5 separate regions of the Homo sapiens genome follow, and regions 1, 2, 4 and 5 are each reported to be linked to region 3. The links are microRNA targets in miRTarBase. Many come from high-throughput screens and were not tested one by one. Region 3 holds a microRNA gene; each other region holds the end of a gene's coding sequence.
Evidence for each region. Region 3 holds the annotated microRNA hsa-miR-1273h-3p (CUGCAGACUCGACCUCCCAGGC, at 2,015-2,036, opposite strand). A microRNA usually pairs through its seed, bases 2 to 8, with sites in the 3' UTR of a target mRNA and lowers its output. Matches are read on the target gene's strand: a 7mer-m8 pairs with bases 2 to 8, a 7mer-A1 pairs with bases 2 to 7 and ends in A, and an 8mer does both.

Region 1 (4,000 bases), not on the chromosome of region 3:
CAACGTGCCATGTTTTTTGTTTTTTGTGTTTTTTTTTTCATTTTTGTTTTTCTATCAGCTGAAATCGCTCTAGCATTTGCTCTACGCGCGCAGGAGATGAAACACAAGGGGGCCTGACAGACGTTGCTACAGCCCCACGCAGGGAGTGTTTGTCCCGCCTACAGGCGGGGGGCTTAGGGGATTTCTTTAGGAAAAAAAGAAAAAAAGTCTGGTGCTTTTTTCTTCACCATTGAAAAACTGTGCTTGTTCATTAGGCGTAAAGAGTTAAGAATACTTGCACGGAGGCTGGGAACATTTGCAGAAGAGGAGCTTGAGTCCTGCCACAGGTGGTGGCCAAGGGCAACTGGGTGCCGAAGGGGGTCCTGGCCAGGTGGAGGGGCAGCCCCTGCTCACCCTCTGCTTGCACCCAACCAAGCTTGTGGTGTTGGGTTGATTGATTGGCGTCCTCGGTGGACCCGCGGCGGCACAGCTGCTGCAGCTGCTAGGACGCCCAACTTAAACCCTGGGGCTGCTCTCACCCCAGAAGGCACTCATGCGTCTCAGTCAAGAAAGGGTCTGAGTCCCTTGAGTTGAGCAGGAGGAGGACTTACCAGTGGTCTCCCCTCCTGGAGGTGGTGGATGTGAGATGCTGAGGCCTGACCCTGCCTCTTCTCCACTCTTCCCAGACTCCCTGACCAGTGCCGGGAGCAGAAGCACAGACCCTGGCCCTCTCTTGTCCCCCAAACAGCTGCCCGGCTAAAGAAGTGGGAGCTGCAGGGTTCTGAGCACCCCATCACCTCCTGTCCCCATCTGTGGGGGAAGGAGGAGGGGCTTCAGGGTCTACCCCCAAAGTAAGCAGCTTCCCTCTCCCCTCTGGTGGTCCCCTCCCCAGTCCCTAATATTAGCCTGGGGCAGAGAATTGGGAGGGGGGAGGGGACGAGGGCCCACTGTCTCACCCAGCACGTGTGCCCCCAGCCCAGTCTGAAACAGAGTGTGTGCCCACAGAAAGTCCTTTTCAATAGCTGGGTGGGCGCACAGCTCTGCCGCCTTGAAGATGTGTTGATGTTAGGGAGTGTGAGTGTCAGAAGGAAATTAGCAAGCATCCAATCCAACCTCCTTAGGTTGTAACTGAGGAAACTAAGGCCCAGAGAGACAAAGGGAAGTTTCTAGTGTTGCCCACTTTGTCAGTGAAGAGCCCAGACTGGAACCTGGGACACCAGCTCTAGTTCTATCCTGGCCTCCCCACTGACTCCCTCCCACTTGCCAGCCTTTCAGGCCAGTCTCAGCAGAAAGAATGAAAGACTGAGACTAAGAGAGGAGTGAGCTTCCTAGACCACCCTAGCTACCTCCAGGCCAAAGCCATCTTCCGATGAATTCTTGGTTTTCACCCAGCCATTGGAGAGAATGGGGCAGAAGTCTCAACTTCCTGTGGCTATCAGTAACTAGCTTTCCCCCAAAATCCTGACTCAGATGTACTTTCCCCACTGGTGAGATCTCCAGCCTTTAGCCCTGGAGACATTTTCATACACTGGAGCTACTGAGTTGGACGCTGTGATACTCATTGCTGCTAACCCTGAATCAGGTTATTCACCATTTTTGCAGCATTGGATGTGTCTTGTCTCCTCAGCTAGATTGTGAGCTCCTCAAAGCTATTGTCTCTCCCAGCGCCTGCACCGGTAGGCACTCAATAAAGATTTTATAGAACACCAGGATATTAGTGCTGGGAGAAATCTCCTGCCAGGAGCCACTTCCCCCACTTTCTGCCTGCAGGTGGCCAGAGCAGCTATTCCCGCATGAACCAGTCGTGCTAGAAGCTCTTCCTCAAGCCAAAATCTGCCCGCCTGTTACTTTTACCCATTGGTCCTGGTTTTACCCTTGTAGCAGCAATACAGACTCAAATTTCCTTCACTGTATGGAATTTCTTCAAATATGTGACAAGTATCCTGTCCCCCTTACCCCGGTCTTATTGATACGAGGGCATTGAGACTGGGTTATGAATGGAGGTGAGGGGGAGGCTTACAGAGCAGTGCAAATGAGGGAACAGTGGGGGGTGGGGCACAAAGGAAGGTGGCAGAATTCCAGCTAATCTGGTGTCTTCCACATAGGGAGAAAGAAAGTTGGGTTTGGGTTGGAATTTGGTGGATTTTCCCATCTCCATTCTTCTGTCCTCTTATCTCTCTGCTCCCTTTGGGGTTCAGGAAAATTGTGAGGTGGTGCAGAAAGACATACTGTATCAGGTCTGTGTCTCCCAGCACCCCCATCCCGACACCCCACAAGGTTCTCAGAAGAGAGCATAGAACACGCTGGACAGAGAATATGAATCCTCACAACATCTAGGTGAGGTAGCAGGACCGGAAATGGGGCTGCACTGTTCTCTCTCCCCCCTCAAAGGAGAAGGAAACTGAGGCACAGAGAAAGAAAGGGACTTGCCCAAGGTTATCAAAGAGTCAGAGAAGCAGCCAGAGACCAGGAACACGGGCACTCCCAAACCAAGCTGAGGGGCCTCCCAAACCTAGCTGATGTGACCTCAGAGCCAGGGCCATCTCTGAGGGACTGTGTCAGGACTGGAGACATCCCGGGGGATGCTCAGCTTCCTCCCCAAGGTCTGCGGTATTGACCTCAGCCCTTAGTGCTGGCTGAGAGCACTGTGGCCAAGACCAAGCAGCCATCACCTATGCTGTCTTATCTGCATCATCTGGTTAATTTTTTGCATAGGGAGGCAGTGGCTACGTTGCCTCTTTGTGACAGGCAAGAGCACAGCCTAAAGGAAGGAGTTGGAGTGACCATGGGTCTCTCGGCTCCCAGGAACACATTGGGTACCAGTAGCTGAGGGCCGAGCCCTCCCTGGTTTAGTGTGGAACTGGGGGGATATAGCTGGGGCCATGAAGTTGAGCCCTGGGCCTGGGGAGCCCCGCCTAGATGAACTCTCCCTTCACCTGCTGGAGCTCTGCTGCCTTCCTCACCTCCGCTGAACCCTCAGAGGCCAGGATAAGACCCCATCAGCTCCTTTTCCAGCTCTCCCTCTCCTAGACCCCCTTCCACACTCCGTGCACTGTAAACATGAGAAAAACAAAAGCCAAGGTAAAAACAAAAACAAAAATAAAACGAGAACCCCCCCCTCCCGCCTCCCAAATTGGGTGAAAAACAAAATCCTTTTTCACCGTAAACAGAATTTGGCTTTTTTTTTCTTCCACCTTTGATTCCTTTTTCCTTTTCTCTCATAAAGACGGGAAGATTGGGGCTGTCGTTGGTTCGGTCAGGCACCAAAACAAGAAACTCAATGAGAAATATTTGGTGCGAATTCGGTAATAGCGACATGTCCACCACAAGATGACTAGAGCACCACACACAACATTTTTCTTAAGCTAACATGCTCCGGCTGCCATCCACAGAAATAGCTAGAGACCCCTACATGGTTCCTACGTGGTCGAGAGGTATATATACAATCCTTCAGAGGACAGGATTGAGGGGCCCGTCTGTCAGCTAGTGCCTTCAGGATCCCACCTGGGTTCTCCGCAGCCTGGGCCCCTCCTTCCCGCCCTTGCGCTGGGCACCGCCAGCTCCCTCTCTCCTGCTCAGCCAGGCGGATGGGGACAGTCGCCATTCTGGAGAGGTGGGTCCTCCCCAACCCCCTCCTCTCCCTCGACACCGATACCACCAACTCCTCTTTCCACAAAATGTGCTTGCAGGCTTTTCCTCTACGTCAAATGGCTCAGAAGGCAAAGTTTGGCTGCAAGGGCTATGGCCGTGGGGGGACCTGGTGAAGGAAATGGGGTGTCCACTGGCTAATTCCTCCCTCAGCTGTCGGCTCCCAGTTGTGTCTCAATGTCCACTCGGCAGATGGGGCATTTCTTGCTCATGGCGAGCCACTGGTCCACGCACAGTTGGTGAAAGAGATGCATACAGGGTAGGCGTCTGGAAGAGAGGAGGGAGAGTCAGAGGCCCGGCAAGAGCTGAGGGACACTGAGCGGAGCAGGGACACACACCTAGGACTCCTGGGGAACTGCCCGGCTATGGAGGG
Region 2 (4,000 bases), not on the chromosome of region 3:
TGATGTCTCTCCTTCCCTCCAAAAAAAAAAAAAAAAAAAAAAGACAAAATAAAAACACGAAGAGCTGCATCTTGATCATCATGGACAGATACTTTTCAGTTAAAAAGTTGCTGGTAGTCTGAGTTCACTTACTTGGAGTATGGACTAAGGAGGGGAAAGCAAAGAGATGCGACATCAGCAGCAGAAAGCCTGCGACACGGCAGCTCTGCTCAGTTTTCTCCGTGGGGAAAGATCGGAACACTTACAAATGAGAACGGGACTTTAAGTAGATAGTATGCAATGGAAAACTGAGCCGGCAACAGTACTTAATGCTGGTTTTCTCAATAAAATCATTTTGCTGTGTAAACGCGCTTATAATGGGGATCTGTTATGAGTCTCAGGCAGGCGACATGAAAGCCGGCCTTTCAAAATCTGATTAGGTGGATAATGTTTGCAAACATGACGCCTGGCAAAACCGGTCTGATTCTAAGGTAAACTCATTTTGGACATAACTGATGTCTCACTGAGACAGCTTTTCAAAGCATGTCTGCAAACACCGGACCCCCGGGGACGGTGCGTGCGTGTAGGGGAGGGAAATTCCAGGGTTTCATATATCAAGATGACACACCCGCTGCACACTTCTCTTAGAAAGTCACGACGCACAGTACTGTGCGTCACAGGTATTGAGAAACACCACCATAGAGTCAATTGACTTTGTTTAACCTATAACCTTTTTTCCTCCCACATAGTAGGTAGTAACATCACACGGAAACAGTGCTCTGAAGACATTCTGGACACATCGTATACAGCACAGCCATTCAAATCAACGGCAACAGAACGCACGAAGAACCTGGTTTTCTTTCAAAGCATGAGCAGTTCTCATTTTACAACATGTGTTTTAACATAATTCAGAAAGTGCAATCTTTGCATGACAACCAGATAATTCTCAAAGGTTACTAGTGAGCTGATAAAATTAACGTTTGGCAAGGAGGTCATGGTTTACAGGTAGGCTGTCCGCTCACCAATGCTCAGAAAAATTCAGCAGAACATACTTTTCATATTTAGATCCGAAGAGAGGTGAGAGACATTCTACTCAAGTCATGGCTGGGCTTTCTGTCCTCAAACGAAATTGGGCAGGCCATTTGCGTGGTTTCTCTGGATAAGTTCCATTTATTAATCATTGTACAAAAAAATCTTGGCATTCATTTGAAGAGAAAAGAAGTTGCTATATCCAAATATTTAACATTTTAACATTGTGAAAGTTCAACGTTTATAACAGGGCTTTTTAAAATGGAGAAAAGTTTTGGAAAATTTTTAAAAAGAAACTTATGATTTATTAGAGTACAGGATCCAAAACACGTTTTTAGAAAAATATAAAGTGCCCAAATACCAACTTACACAGGTGATACAGGCTTCCTGGAGCCCCATGAAGCATTCATGAAGAAAGACATTTAAAAACAGTCTAGATACATATGTACAGCTGGGTCAGTAAAGGTAAAACCATCTTTCTTGACTTTGATGTGTCTAAGAAAAAAGGAAATCAATCAAACCAGAAAACCAACAATTGCAACTCTCAGCATGCTCAGGTTCTTATTAATGCATCTCATTCATATTAATTAATTCCGTATTATCAAACTTTCCCCTTTAAATGAAAGTAGTGTACAATCCTCCCAACCTTGGCGGGCCAGGTGCTGTGAGTGGTTACGTTTCCAGATGCAGGTTCAAATCCTTTGACTTTGGATTTGACTGATGAGGAACATGGACAGTGGATTAAATAGCTCATTCAGGCTGGAGGAGCCAGGGGCCAAATCCCCATCTCTTTCTAGTAACTGCTTAAAGCCTTCCCTTGCTATGAAGTGGTCTCAGGTGGCTTTCCAAACCTTGGTCACCCCAGGGTTTCCAAAGGGTAAACAAGCAGCAGGCATTCAACATGGGTGAGAATACTGCATGCAGATGGACAGACAGGTGCAGAGACAGGCCCCTAACGCCCCATTCACTAGAGCAACTGCATTATTTTAAATGTTGAGAGCAAAGTAACTAGGTCCTAACTTCGGAAGTTAGCTTCTATCGATTAATGACAAGATTAGCTCGCTTGAGAACTGGCAGGCCGAGAGTTGGTGGAGCTCCAGAGCTGCACAAAGGCGTGCAGTTACTCTGGGCTCAGTTACTGAGAACTTCGGAAAGGAGCCAGTGCCGTCCGAACACACGGTCAGGCTTTCCCAGAAGACGCCACAACAGGCTTCGTCCTGCTGCCGTCAGGACCCTGGCGGCTTGGAAAAGCAGATTCCAACACGCACATCTCCTTTCACACAAGTCCAACACTCTTCAAATGAAAGACATTCTCTCTCTTTCTAACCTGCCACATTCAAACAGGCCTTGAAGTGACTCTAAGGAATAACAAGAGGTGTGAAACCACTTTTTTTCCCTTCAAAACCTTTTTTTTTTTTTTTAAGGTTCATTAATTTTTTTTTTTCCTGATTACAAAAGCAAAACCTCATTTTTTGGTCTTTGAAGACCATGGAGTATGACTTCTAAGAGCAAACATTAACATCAGATTTGTATGTCTCACTACAAAAAGAACCCATCACTGATGTAAGACCTACTCATGATACTGAAGTAGATTTTTTAAATTAAAAAATAAAAGTAGTCATTTAAAATGGAGGAATTGTAGATGAGTATGGAAAAATCCATTCACAAAGTTCACTATTTGCATTTTCTAAAAGAATTTTATGTAATAAAATAGAAAACTAATGATTTATAGAGATGTGCATAAACTCAAGAGAGGAATATGGAAGGGAAAACTGTGTTATATTCCCATTTAAATTTAAAAAAAAAAGATAAAACACTTGAAATCTGTGTTTCACATATTAGAAAAAAATAAATTCAAATGATTCTAATTACCATTAGCTTGTTAATGTCTCCATCTCTAAGATGCTGCCAAGATAGCACACAACTTTACCTCTGAATATGCAACTAACTTCAGGGTAAAAAGACACACAGTCCTCACTCGGGACCGAACACGTTCCACAGAGAAATCAGAAGGAAATTATTGCAAATGCATAACCCCATCTGTCCAGCCAAGGAAATGTTCTGAGACAAATGCAGACAGACAGGGGAATGGAGTGAATACAAAGAATGATTACAGGAGCGTCGACTGTGAGACCTCATGAAGACAGAATGTCACAAACTGTCACCACAGGACAAGCATACAAGCCATGCCACTGACACAGTGCCTTTCAGATTAATTCACTAGTGTAGGCGGAGAGCAACATTGTCTTTGCAGCTGGGGAAGAGCACACGGTATTTAAACTTAGTAGGAGGCAACCAGCACTACTGGTGGAGTGGCTTTCCTGGTGCAGCAGGTCCCGAGGGCTCCGTGGAGACGTCTTCTTCCGGAGTCCCGTTCTCTTGGAAGATAGCAGCAGCAGCAAAGGTGCAATGTCCTCTCTAGACTTTACTCATCTATGTTCTCTTTCTTTGCACTGTAAATATTCTGCACCGTTTCATAGACAAACTCCAGATCTTCTGGATACCGGATCTCCAGCTCTGCGTTTGGGATGTAGTGAGTGCCAGTAAACTCTGAGAAATAGCGTCCCACGTCAGGGTGTGAGATTTCTTGAGGCTCCACGTTATATTCCAAGTTTTCTGTTGGTAAAGAGGCACACGGGCATTCTCATTACAATGTCCATTGCTGCCACACCTTTCATCCAGAGAACCTCCCATCACCCCTTCCAGGTGGCATTTTTGGGGTGGAGAAGGGAAGACTGAAGATGTTTATGGAGTCAGGAGAGGGTAATGGGAAAAGGGCAGCAAGTGGCAATCAGGAGAAGGTGGGTGGTGGCACGGGTGTCTCAAGAGCTCCCCACGGAACAGCAGGATCTTCCTCATCTCTAAGCAGGATGTCTGGCTCCAGCAAAACTCCAAAGGTCTCTTGGGGACTGGCAAACTAGAGACTCAACAGGTCTCTCTGACTGGACAATGGGACAACATTATCCCTGCCTGCTCTTTTTTTGGCAGTGGC
Region 3 (4,152 bases):
CTATGACTGTTCCACTTCACTTCAGCCTGGGTAACAGAGTAAGACCCTGTCTCTAAAAAAAAAAAAAAAAAAAAAAGGAATTATAATAATAATTTTTTTTTTGAGATGAAGTCTCACTTTGTCGCCCAGGCTGGTGTGCAGTGGCACGATCTCGGCTCACTGCAACCTCCACCTCCCGGGTTCAAGCGATTCTCCTGCCTCAGCCTCCCAAGTAGCTGGGACTACAGGCACCCATCACCATGCCCAGCTAATTTTTGTATTTTTAGTAGAGACGGGGTTTCACTATGTTGGCTAGGCTGGTCTCGAACTCCTGACCTCGTGATCTGCACGCCTTGGCCTCCCAAAGTGCTAGGATTACAGGCATGAGCCTCTGTGCCTGGCCATAAAAAATTTTAAAACACACAAAAGAATCCTTCTTAATCCCGCCACCCCAAATCTCTGTATTATGTTAACATCTTGGTTTGTATCCTAGATGGCTGGATGAATAGATGAATGGATGTTTTTTAGTTTTTAGACAAAGGTGGAATCATGACTCTGTTCTTTTGCTTGCTTTTTAAAAGAAACTAGATGAAATACACTCTAAACATCTTCCCATGTCAACAGAATATCATTTTTTTTCTTATCTATTCTTCACCATTCATCCTAAACCCACATTGTTGGCTTCAAGTAAACTCACCCTCAAATAGTAATTATCCCTTCTATTTGCCTATCTTTTTATAGCTTTGATTCCCACAAGGCTGTGAGATAGGCAGGAAAAGGATTATCTCTACTTAACAGATAATTTTAAGAGTTAACAGTTTGTTCAGGGTCATATAGGGTCAAGTAGGAGAGCCAAGATCCAGAGCCCATCTGTTCAATTCCAAAGCCCATGGGCTTTCCATTACATCCCATTGCCTCATACTATGTATCTGATTGTGTGGCACGGACTTAAAAGTTAAGCTAACCTGGGTACCAATCCTGGCTCCAACAATTCCCAGCTATACAACCTTCAAGCAAGTTAGCTAAGTCCCCTAAGCTCAAGTTTCTTGTAGGGTGTGGCGAGAATGACTTGATAAAATTCACATCAAATACTTAACATGGTAGCTGGTGGTTACTGCTGAGGGCTGACTGACCCATTCATGTCCAGTGAGTAAGTCTGACAGGGCTGTGCTCTGGCTTGAAAGAGGTCCTGTACGCTCTGCCAAACCCTAAATTCCTACCCATATTCCCATCCCAATTACAAGCAGAATGAGGACCTGCCAGTGCTACTTTAGACATAGAACAGAAACCTTCCCACTTAGCCTGGTGCATCACGGCAGGAAGCTACAAGACAAAGCCAGGCCCTGGGGCTCCCAGTTAGAGGAAGTGAGAAAAAGACGTGTACCCTGGGAAGAAAAAGGGATGCATTTCCGTTCCCATCCAAGCCTCACTTCCTTAGAAAGACATTTCAGGTAGATTAACACACCATCTCTGTGCTGTTTTCCATATGCCATTTGGGGGGGCATTTTGTGGTTATTTTTAAGAGACTGCACTTGTAACAAAACAAAAAGTAAGCTTTCTGTTTTCCTTTCTGGGTCATGAGCTGGTCTCAACCCTCCAAATTCAACTGTCACTGGAAGTCTTTGTGGAGTTGGAATTTCTATTGGGAGTGGCTGTGAAGGTAGGAAGAACATCAGCAAATGTGGTGATATGGTTTGAATGTGTTCTCCCAAAGTTCTTGTGCTGGACACTTAATCCCCAATGCAACAGTGTTGAGAGGTGGGAACTTTTGGAGGTGACTGGATTGATGTTATTATTGTGGGAGTGAATTTATTTAAAAAGTAAGTTACCCTCCCTCATGTGTTCTCTTGCCATGTGATGCCTTCTATCAGGTTACTATGCAGCAAGAAGGTCCTCCCCAGATACAGCCCCTGATCTTGTACTTCCCACCCTCCAGAACCATGAGCCAAATAAATTTCTTTTCATTGTAAGTTATCCACTTTTTTTTTTTTGAGACAGGGTCTCACTCTGTCACTCGAGCAGGAGGATTGCTTAAGCCTGGGAGGTCGAGTCTGCAGCAAGCTGTGACCACGACACTGCAGCCTTGACCTCCCAGGCTCAAGCAATCCTGCCTTAGTCACCCAAGTAGCTGGGACTACAGGCATGTGCCACCCCACCTGGTTGATTTTTGTAATTTTTGTGTGTGTAAAGACAGATTTTGCCATGTTCCCCAAGCTGGTCTCAAACTCCTGGGCTCAAGCTCAAGTGATCTGCCCATGTTAACCTCCCAAAGTGCTGGAATTACAGGCATGAGCCACTGCACCAGGCCCCAGTTTCAGGTATTCTTATAGCAGCACAAAACAGACTAAGACAGACACACAATGTCATAAAAATGAAGGAGAAGAGGGGCTTAAAAAGAAAGAAGGCACTCTGAACTTTTCCTACAGATAAACTCACTTATATAGGAAACTAGGAAGTTATTCAAAGGGTGATGTAGAGTTAGATAAGCAGATAAGAAACAATCTCCAAGACAGAGGGGAATAATGCAAGATACAGAAATTGTACACAGCATGCTAACATCCTTGTGTGTGATGTAGACTATTTCTGGGCCTGAACACATCTTCTCTAGAAGGTCACACAAGAACCTGGTTGCAATGGGTGTCTCTGGGAAGGAGAACCAGGAAGCCTAGCTAGGAGCCATGGGTGAGGGGAATCTTAATTTCACTTTGTAGCTTCTGATGCTGCTTGAATATTTTATTTTTTCACATTTTTTTAAAGGAGAAAGGATTAGAGCACCTAATAATATGGTGAGGTCAAGAAAGATGAGACAAGCTTATGAGAAGAGGCAGTTTTCAGGTCATTGATGACTCAATGAGAAAAATATCAATAGGATGGCGGGAGCAGAAGCCAGATTGCACCAAACTGAGGAAACAATAAATTGTCATCAAGTGGAAATAGCAGGAACTGGCAACTCTTTCAAAAGTGTGTTTGTATGCAAAGTAAGGTAGGGTAGTAATCATAGCAGTAGTAAGAGTAGTAGTAAGGAGGATTCCCAGGTTTGAGGTAGGGGATTTTTAACATGAAAAAGACATAGCAGGTTTATGCACAAAGGAGAAGGCCAGGATAGAGTCAGAAAGGACAGCTGCTGTTTTTGCCCAGCCAGCAGGCATTGTCTTTTCTTCTAGTGACAGTGGCTTTATTTTTCTTTTTTTCTTTTTTTTTTTTTTTGAGACGGAGTCTCGCTCTTTTGCCCAGGCTGGACTGCAGTGGCGCTATCTCAGCTCACTGCAAGCTCCGCCTCCTGGGTTCACGCCATTCTCCTGCCTCAGCCTCCCGAGTAGCTGGGACTACAGGTGCCCGCCACCGCGCCCAGCTAATTTTTTGTATTTTTTAGTGGAGATGGGGTTTCACCGTGTTAGCCAAGATGGTCTCGATCTCCTGACCTCATGATCCACCCGCCTCAGCCTCCCAAAGTGCTGGGATTATAGGCGTGAGCCACCACACCCGGCCATGACAGTGGCTTTTTTTTCTTAAAGGAGATATTCCTTCTCTTCTTTCAAAATGTCTGATTTAGATAGGACATTCCTTCTCTTTTTTCAAAATGTCTGGATTAGATCCAGCTCTCTGGCTAAGAGGGGCTGGTGACCCAGGCCCGGTCAATCAGCACATTCCATCCCCCTGGTGCAGTGAGCAATTCCCTTAGAGATGGGCATATGACCCAATAATCTTCCAAAAAGATTGAGTCCTAGGCTGCTGGGATTTTATAAAAAGGAAGCCCTTTTCTTTGGTAGAAGTTGCAGAGATAATGGGACATAAATTGGGAGTTGCTATGTGCCCAAGAAAGCCTTCTGAGAATGAAGAATGAAGTCAACACAGTGGGGAAAGTAATCCTAAGGGATATAGATAAATGTTTCCCTGCTGGCATTGTTTGGGACCAGATGTAGATGATCCATCTACATCTGAATACTAACTATCATTATTTTTTGCTTAAAAGTCAGTTTAAATCAGATTCCTATTTGAAACCATAGGAGTTTTGTTGATACAGAGAGAAGCTGTAGACAGACTAAACAGGGGAGATAAGCATGAAGGATCAAGAGGCTGGAGTCCAGAGCAGGAGTGAGGGTAAGTCTCACATGAGTTGGGGGAGGGAAAACATATTTGCTAAGACAGAGATGGAAGCTGGGCAAGGAGGTC
Region 4 (4,000 bases), not on the chromosome of region 3:
CTTGCCCCTTTTTCCCTCTGATGACCTCATGATGTTGGGTGGTGTGTGTTTGTGGGTGCATTTATGGCAGGGGCTGGTTGCTTCTTTTCTTGTTCTCTTTCTTGGCTCTCTGGGATGCTGAGTGGCCCCCGGCTCTTGTATTCCCCACTGATTAGTCATGGCCAGGCAGCTGCTCCAGCCAGGGTGGAGTGCTGTGCCTTTACCCACAGCACTGCCTGTTTGTTTTGCTTTATAGAAACTCCAAGAGGAGGAGGAGGAGAGCAACACCAGCAAAGTGCCCACTGCTGTGTCAGAGGATCATCTCTGAGAGGAAGGTGGTGACAACTCAGGGAACACGAACACCCCACCTTTTCCTTCAGCACAGCTCTCACCGCCAGCACAAAGGGCTTCGCTAGAGATGTTTTTGGAGGGAATCAGTGGGACTATTTGTGGCATGGATGGCCTATTCCTCCTAGAACCCACGTAAGAGCTTGGATGATTTAGTTGGAGAAAATTGCACCTATCACCAAATGCAAATTTGATTCCCACCTCCACCCCCTTTTAGGTTATGGGAGTTGGTGTTGGGACAGGGTGGCAGAGAATATTGGAGTCAATCCTAGCTTGGTCTCTTGCCTTCCCTCTTTTCCTCCATCCATCGTGGACAATGCCTGCAAAATTTTCACAGGAAGAAAGCCTATTCAGGATATTAACTTGAAATTTCCAGTGTCCTAAGAGCCTCTCATGAAGCCCAGTTCTAATAAGTGGCAAGCTGCTCTGCCGGGGTCATCTCCTGGGTCATCGGACTGATTGCTCAAGTTCTGCAGGAGAGGAAGCACCATTAGAACAACTCCATCAGAACAGCTCCACCGGGACTTGTGGGCCTAAATTTTCCTGGCCTAACGGGTCTGTCTCCAAACCCTCTTTCCTAAGAGCTGAGCAAACCAACCATAATAAACTTGACAAAAGACTTTGTTGTGGCCATGACAGAGATACCGACTCAGGAGGGCTACCTACCTAGGTGTGATCATGCTGGGGGCTACCTTCTGAGTATATTTGTGAAAGCACATATTTGGGAACTCTGGTAGCTTGAGTTGGGAATGGGAAGGTTCTTTTTTACAGAAGTACTTCCCCAGGGACTTCTGTGTGTCACAGTCACCTCTGATGCCTTTATCTTGATGTTGCATTGGGAATCTCAGCCATCAGCCCAAGTGCTTGTTTTATTCCAAGGCAGGGTAATCCCCGTCAACTTACTCTAACCTTTGCTGAAAACTAATCTTGATTCATTCTACTCTGAAAATCCAAAGGTGCTTCTGAGAGATAAGAGGGAAGGGGTAGAAGGAAAGGTGCCCCTTGAAATGGGAATTGAGCCTGTTAGAATTAAAAGCTTATCTCACCTCTGCTGGGGACAGTATTTGCACCACCAACCCCTCTCCTCACCTGCTTTGAGCGATAATCTTTATCAGATATTCTAAACTTAAAGGGATTCCCTTTAAACCAACTCAAGCTGATCTTTCCTATCTAGCCTGCTGTTTGGCTGTACTCATGGGCTTTGGTAATATCTCCTAAAAATGAGGTTTTGGTAATTTTTCCTATGCATTGGGCAACTGTGATCGTGACCACTGTGCTGTCTTGCTCCAGCCACTGCCCTGGCCTCAGCATATCAGGGCAGCCTGTGCTGGCTGCAATACTGTGGTGCTTGGGCCACTGCCTGAGAGGAGCCAGGTTTGTGTGTGTCTGCATGTGTGTGTGTGTGTGTTTGTACAGATTCAAGCAATGGATGCAAGGAACATGCTGTATGTAATAGAAGAAAGAAGTCCACGTTTTCGGCAGAAGTAGTGAGTCAGTGTGGAAGAGAGGTGAGGGTGTGCTTTACTTTTTGATAAAGAGAAAGATGTTTACTCATAAACCCTTCAAAAGGTATTAACAAAATGTTTACCAAACCTATTGCTTTATTTTAAAAACATAATTTGTGTTTTCTATTTGTAAGATCTGACATTTCGAGGCAATAAAAACTTCTCAGAAAGTGGTCTGCCTTATCATTCAGTGGGGCAGAGATGGCTCTTAGAAGTCCCTGCAAGACTGTCACACATTCCTGAGGCTCCTGTCTTAGGTGTGGGGAAGGGCTGGGCTGGGGCGGGGGAGTGTGAGGCTAGAGAAGCAGCAACTGTGGTCTTCCACAGGAGCATCTCACTGTTGCCAGACCTTACCATCTGGGAGGGATATTTTTTAAAGACAAGGCTGTAAAGGTTACTGTTTGCCTACATGGAGGGACTGCAACTCAACATCCAGCACGACCCTGACCTCTTTCCATGCTGTGTACGCGCTGGAATGTGAGTGACTGCTGATGAGAGAGTCCACTGTTGTTTCTGGCTCTGCCTCAAAGGGTGGTTGAAATGTTTGTTCTCTGATTACCTCAGCCATGCATCAGCTTGCTGTGGCTGGGGCCCATGGCTCAGTCCCAGCAGCTGCAGTCTTGCGTTACCATTTTTCTTCCTAACTGGCCAACGTCCTGTTACTCATCCCTCCCCAGTTGTGATCACCTTGTGCGTGTTACTTGAATATGCTGCTACTATCATCTGTGTTCTGTACATTCTTTCCATAGAGAGTTGTACTGTGCCTGTGGTATTCTAGCATCATATTTATAGCAACTCGTAGCTGGGGAGGAACAATATTATGATTCTATTTTAAATGATCTAGGAAGGGACCCAAGCCTGGGCTGTTAAGAAATCTAATATCCATAGTGTCTGCTAAATACTCTAACTGTACATCTCTTTAGATCCTTTGGGTCCCTGCCTTTACTAATCTGGAATCACTTTTTTTTTTTTTTTTTTTTTTGAGATGGTGTCTTTTTCTGTCGCCAGGCTGGAGTGCAATGGCGCAATCTCGGCTCACTGCAACCTCCGCCTTCCTGGTTCAAGCAATTCTCCTGTCTCAGCCTCCCAAGTAGCTGGGACTACAGGCACACGCCACCATGCCCAGCTAATTTTTGTACTTTTAGTAGAGACGGGGTTTCACCATGTTGGCCAGGATGGTCTCGATCTTTTGACCTCATGATCTGCCCGTGTCAGCCTCCCAAAAGTGCTGGGATTACAGGCGTGAGCCACCACACCCGGCCAGGGCATCACATTTTCATGACACATGCTCAGAGGACCTAAATCATCCAATGTTTTCATTCACTCCTTTCATAAGGTCTTCATGTGGATCTGTGTTCAAACATTAACTGTCATCACTGCTTTTTTACTGCCTCCTAACAATATAGCTGACAAGTAAAGAAAAGATAGTTCTTACCATTGAGATATTTTTCTAGATACAGTGTTCTGGGCATATGAGGCCTGGAATTTCTGCAACCAACTTTGGTACCATAAAAGAAGTCAGCCTGAGGATGCCAGCACACATAGGTAGTGCTGAAAGAATCGTAAAGAAATGGAGCTGGAGTCTTGATCAAACCCTTCCTGAAGCTAATCTTGTAATTTTTCAGTTATATGAGCCAGCTATCTTTATTGTTTAAGCTAGTTTAAGGTAGGTTTTGTCCTTTCACCTAAAGAGACTTAACTGATAAGAGAATTCCCAATGTATTTAAGTGTAAACATCAAGCTTCTTATCACACCCTTATAAGCCCCTTGCCTCCTTTTCTGACCTTTTCTTTCACTTCCTAACTCTTCACCATGCTGTGATTACATAGTTCTTATTCCTTGAATAAGACTATTCTACCTTCCAGTTGCTGCTCCCTCCTTTCTAACGGCCTGCTCCATATCTTAAGACATTTAACTCCTGGGCATTCAAGTCTCAGCTCAAATCCCACCTCTTAGCCTGGACAACATAGTAAGACCCCATCTCTTCCCACCCCCAAAAATGTTAGCTGGATGTGGTGGTACACACTTGTAGTCCCAGCTACTTGGGAAGCTGATGCAGGAGGATCACTTGAGCCCAGGAAGTTGAGGCTGCAGTGAGGTGTGATTGTGCCACTGCACTCCAGCCTGGGTGACAGAGTGAAACCCTGTCTCTAAAAAACAAAAAAATC
Region 5 (4,000 bases), not on the chromosome of region 3:
GCTAATCAGTGGCAAAGAGTGTAAACAGATGAAATGGCAAAGTTTTAAAAGTTTTTTTGTAGTGTTTGGGAAAATAAAGAATCTGTGGTAGGAAGCAAGCAGGTTTAAGTACAAGAAAACAAAACAAAACAAAACAAAACAAAAAACAAAAAAACCCGAAAGCCCAGCCTCAAGCCTCAACCTACTTTAAGATGCACAAATACAACTCAAACTTCATAAAGCAGAGGAGTAAAAGGTGCAAGAGCCATGTAGCATCCCTGAAGCCATGGCGAAACAAACACAGCGGTATTTAAAAACTGGGTTCACTCAAAGGCACAATTCAATCAACCTCTTTTTCTCTATTTAAGTGTATATATTTATATCCCTTTGTATATCAGAGATAAGTTTTGTTAATTGTAGAGGACACAATGGCTTTCTTCTTGCTTCTAAAAATTACTGAAGATGAATCATAATAAAACAGTAAGCTCCTGATGCTAGTAACATTAATGTGTAAGATACCAAATAAGGCAAGTTTTCAGCCAGAAAGGGGTAGGGGGTTTTAGCTTTCTAAACATCCTGAGACCTGAAATTAAAGGATACAGGACAAGGGAGATAAGTGCGGTCCAATCTGTGTAAGGGAAATAGCTACATATTTTGGTCAAAACAGATAATATGAAGGTCTTTTTGTTACAAAATATTAGATACTTTTCCCATTCAGTATTGTAATCAAATCATAATATCAGACAGTCAAATTCTCCTCCTATTGTGATTCTATTTCTGATAAATGCTTGCTGGGCCCTCCCACTCCTCACCACTGCTACTAGGTGGCCAATGTTTTCACAATCCGAACCCAGTATAATTTGATAAATTTTAGTAAAGTGTTTTTTCATTATTTAGCAGGGCTCTTAAATTCAATAATTCACAGAAAGGACAGAAACATTAAACACTTTAAAAAATAAAACAGTGTTCTTCCATTTCCTACTAAAGACACACACACACACACACACACACACACACACCTTGTAGTGCCAAAGGCAAGATTTACACTCTATTTTCACTCCTTAAGATGCTTTGCATTTGTCTTACTCTGAAGTGTGTACTATTATTGTTATAAGAACTTTCCATACTCTAAGGCTTAATTTTATAATCTAGCCCTTTCAAATGATCTACCTCAGTACAGATTTTGCCTTTGGGAATTGTAAGCATGCAGTGAAAAAGTGCAAATCATTTTAAAAATCCTTCAGACCTCTATATACAACCGTAACAGCAAAAAGACCCTATGAACGTTAAGGATTCATCAGCCACTACCTTTCACATACTCTATTAAAAAGGTTACCATTAGTTACTCTCCTTTAGGTACAATGCAATAAGGATCAGAAATATCCAATGACCAAAGTAGTACAAATTGATCTATGCACATTTGTTACTTTTTCAAGGGACAAATAAAATCTTTATATCAAGTTCAGAGAAAAAAAAAAAAACCCACAAAGAGTAAGGCCACTGAAAAAGCAATCTGTTTTAGAGCTGGCTGAGAAATCTACCTGGAAATGTCTTCAGTCAAGGGAGCACTGTGGCTTGCCAACAGAACACGCACATGCTCTGGCACAATCTGCATAGAACCTGCCATAAAGAACACAACCCTTCACAATTGACAGGTGGCTTGTTCTAGGGAATGATAGGACAAAAGGGGAGGGGATGGCTAAGGGAGTAAGGAAAAAAGAAAGATGTTAAATAACATCTTCAATATCGAAATAAAGCCTGATTCTGGTGCCTTGTCCTTTACATATAACAGATGGACACACAATGCTACACACACACCAAACCTACCAGGCAATTACTGTTCATTTAACACAGGTTTTTAAAACTAGTAGTTTAAAAAGGACCAGGGCTTTGCTTTATAACATGAATAAATGAAACCGGTCATCAGGAATCACACATCAAGGTCTTATGCTCAGATATGACTACAGCTGTCATTCTCTGGCTTTCACCTAAACATGAGGGACCAGACCTCTGACTTAGTGACAACCAAAGAACAGTCTGGAGAAGAAACTGAAGGAACAGCCTCACACAGACCACTCACACTGTGAGAGATAAGCATCGCTCCCATCCCTCGACACATCCCTTTGTGTATTTACAAACTACCAAGAGAGTTCCTGCATTCATCATAGGGATCTTAGATGTCTTCATTATAAATAAATATGGTTCTCCCTCCTCCACTAATAGGAAAATGTGAAACATGCTTGGTAGGAAACATGTACAGGGGCAGAATGGGACAAAGGCGGAGAAAAAGTTATAGAGATGACACTCCTCAATTGTAGTAAGTGTGCAAATTCTACTTCTAAAAGGGATAAAAAAGAATTGGCTTTTAAAAACACTGCACTCAAAGTAATGTTTCCAATAATAACCTTTAAAGTTTCAATGAAAAAGAAAAATCTGTGCTTATGGGCACATGGGATTTCTGATTGTGTTACTTCATTTTAGGTCATTCAAAATGGACTTGGTTTAATGCATACACTATGGCAATAACTTACGGAGGGCCACAGTTCCTCCTCAACCAAATCAAATCTAGCTGAGAACACTCTGGAGTGAAGGCATGTGGTGATGAGTTTTTCAAAAGTCTAATCAACCACCCCAAATCTCTACATCCTCTCAGGGAGTTAACTTCCCCTAGACAATCAAGGACTCTGAAAGTCTAGTTTTGCTATAAATATAAAATATTTGTAGCAGAAAAATATAGCCTCTCTAAGAAGCAGATTTCATGTTTCTTGTTCACTGACGAAACTCTGAGTTGGCTGGACAACATGAGTTACCACATAACTGTAGACCACAGATCAGCACCTCAAATTCCAGCTCTACTTAAACAAAACTTTAAAAGCACTTTAGCCATCTGGTCAGGTATAAATGTTGGTTCCCTTCTTCCCCAAGGGAGGAAATTCAGAATAGAGTCAACAGTGACTGCCCTGTTAGAGAGTCCCTTTCGCTGAAGCAGGGGTGGGAAATGGCAGGGGTAGGAAATGGCAGCGCCAAGTCCTCCTGTGCAGACCTCGAGGTGGCACCCCATGTGCTGTGGCTCCTCCTCACCGCTCCGACGTGGGCTGACTTTCAGCACAGTAATGAGAAGTCAGAGCTGGGGTCAATGTGCAGCGCTCTAGGCAATGGGGAGATTGGGGGCGGCAGGAGCGGGGGTTGCCTTCAATTTTATAAATTACAACAATACTTGGTATTATCAAGCCACTGTTCATTGGCAGAAAGTGGGGCACAGTGGAGTCCTTCATTACTTATGGTTTACAGATGGCCATTAGAAGTTACTAAACAAATATTTCTCCCAAAACTCAAAAGAAAAAAAATCATCCACAAAACCCTTTACCAAAAGTCATTGTTAAAAAAAAAAATTTCCTTCTGGGAATGGACTAGCGTGGCTACTGAGATGACGTGAAATTCACTTTCAGAGTTGAAACTGTTTCTCCTCATTTCATTTGCAACTTGTATCCTGCTGGTTTAAAAAAAAAATAGAAATGTTTCTAGACCATTCATACACCCATTTAAGCTAAATTGCACTTCTGTCCTTTAGTTAGGAAGGGCAAGATCATCTCTGGGGCCAGCCTCCTCATCTCTGCTTCTGCATAACCACAGTGTCCAACCAATGATCACACTGTTGTTGAGAGTTTAAGTGGACAAATGTCCTGGCCATCTCGTGGTGCTTCTTTTTTAGAGTTTGGTGTCCTGATGAAACAAATGTCTGGACTGTTTTTGAGGCTTCCAATGTGCAAAAATAGTTCCCAAGGCATTGAATCAACCTGGGGCTCCATTAAGGTGTTTTGGTTAATTCTTGTAGCTGCTGAAAACCCTGTCGTGTATAGTGCACCAGGTCCACCAAACTGCTGTTGAGGGCCAAGGTGCACACATTTGTGCTGAGCCGAGCAAAGAATTCTGCAAAAAAAACAAAACAAAACAAAAACAAGTAAATACACAAGCACACACAAAAATTAAAATGGAAACAAAAATTCAAGGTTCCAGAAGG

Region 1: the mRNA of ARK2C is a reported target of hsa-miR-1273h-3p. Seed matches in the 3' UTR shown: 7mer-A1 at 296-302.
Region 2: the mRNA of FBXO21 is a reported target of hsa-miR-1273h-3p. Seed matches in the 3' UTR shown: 7mer-m8 at 3,080-3,086.
Region 4: miRTarBase lists FLVCR2 as a target of hsa-miR-1273h-3p. Seed matches in the 3' UTR shown: 7mer-m8 at 1,712-1,718.
Region 5: the mRNA of AFF1 is a reported target of hsa-miR-1273h-3p. Seed matches in the 3' UTR shown: 7mer-m8 at 3,016-3,022.

The regions. Positions count from the first base shown.
Region 1 is chr18:46,456,413-46,460,412 of GRCh38, reverse strand. It overlaps ARK2C (arkadia (RNF111) C-terminal like ring finger ubiquitin ligase 2C), which reads right to left. Exons shown (of 8, transcript NM_152470.3): 8 at 1-3,894. The coding sequence ends at 3,777. Among named protein-coding and RNA genes, the nearest start is that of ARK2C, 120 kb to the right of the region's middle. RefSeq lists an enhancer at 1,490-2,279.
Region 2 is chr12:117,142,654-117,146,653 of GRCh38, forward strand. FBXO21 (F-box protein 21) reads right to left here. Exons shown (of 12, transcript NM_015002.3): 12 at 1-3,624. The coding sequence ends at 3,434. Among named protein-coding and RNA genes, the nearest start is that of TESC-AS1, 45 kb to the left of the region's middle. RefSeq lists enhancers at 139-1,338, 739-818.
Region 3 is chr16:24,201,070-24,205,221 of GRCh38, reverse strand. It overlaps MIR1273H (microRNA 1273h), which reads right to left and starts at 2,106; the gene lies at 1,991-2,106. All of the region lies in intron 16 of PRKCB (protein kinase C beta), which reads right to left.
Region 4 is chr14:75,646,166-75,650,165 of GRCh38, forward strand. It overlaps FLVCR2 (FLVCR choline and putative heme transporter 2), which reads left to right. Exons shown (of 10, transcript NM_017791.3): 10 at 236-2,002. The coding sequence ends at 307. It overlaps ERG28 (ergosterol biosynthesis 28 homolog), which reads right to left. Exons shown (of 5, transcript NM_007176.4): 5 at 3,626-4,000. Among named protein-coding and RNA genes, the nearest start is that of ERG28, 13 kb to the right of the region's middle. RefSeq lists an enhancer at 2,181-2,475.
Region 5 is chr4:87,135,489-87,139,488 of GRCh38, reverse strand. AFF1 (ALF transcription elongation factor 1) reads right to left here. Exons shown (of 21, transcript NM_001166693.3): 21 at 1-3,909. The coding sequence ends at 3,788. Among named protein-coding and RNA genes, the nearest start is that of KLHL8, 83 kb to the left of the region's middle.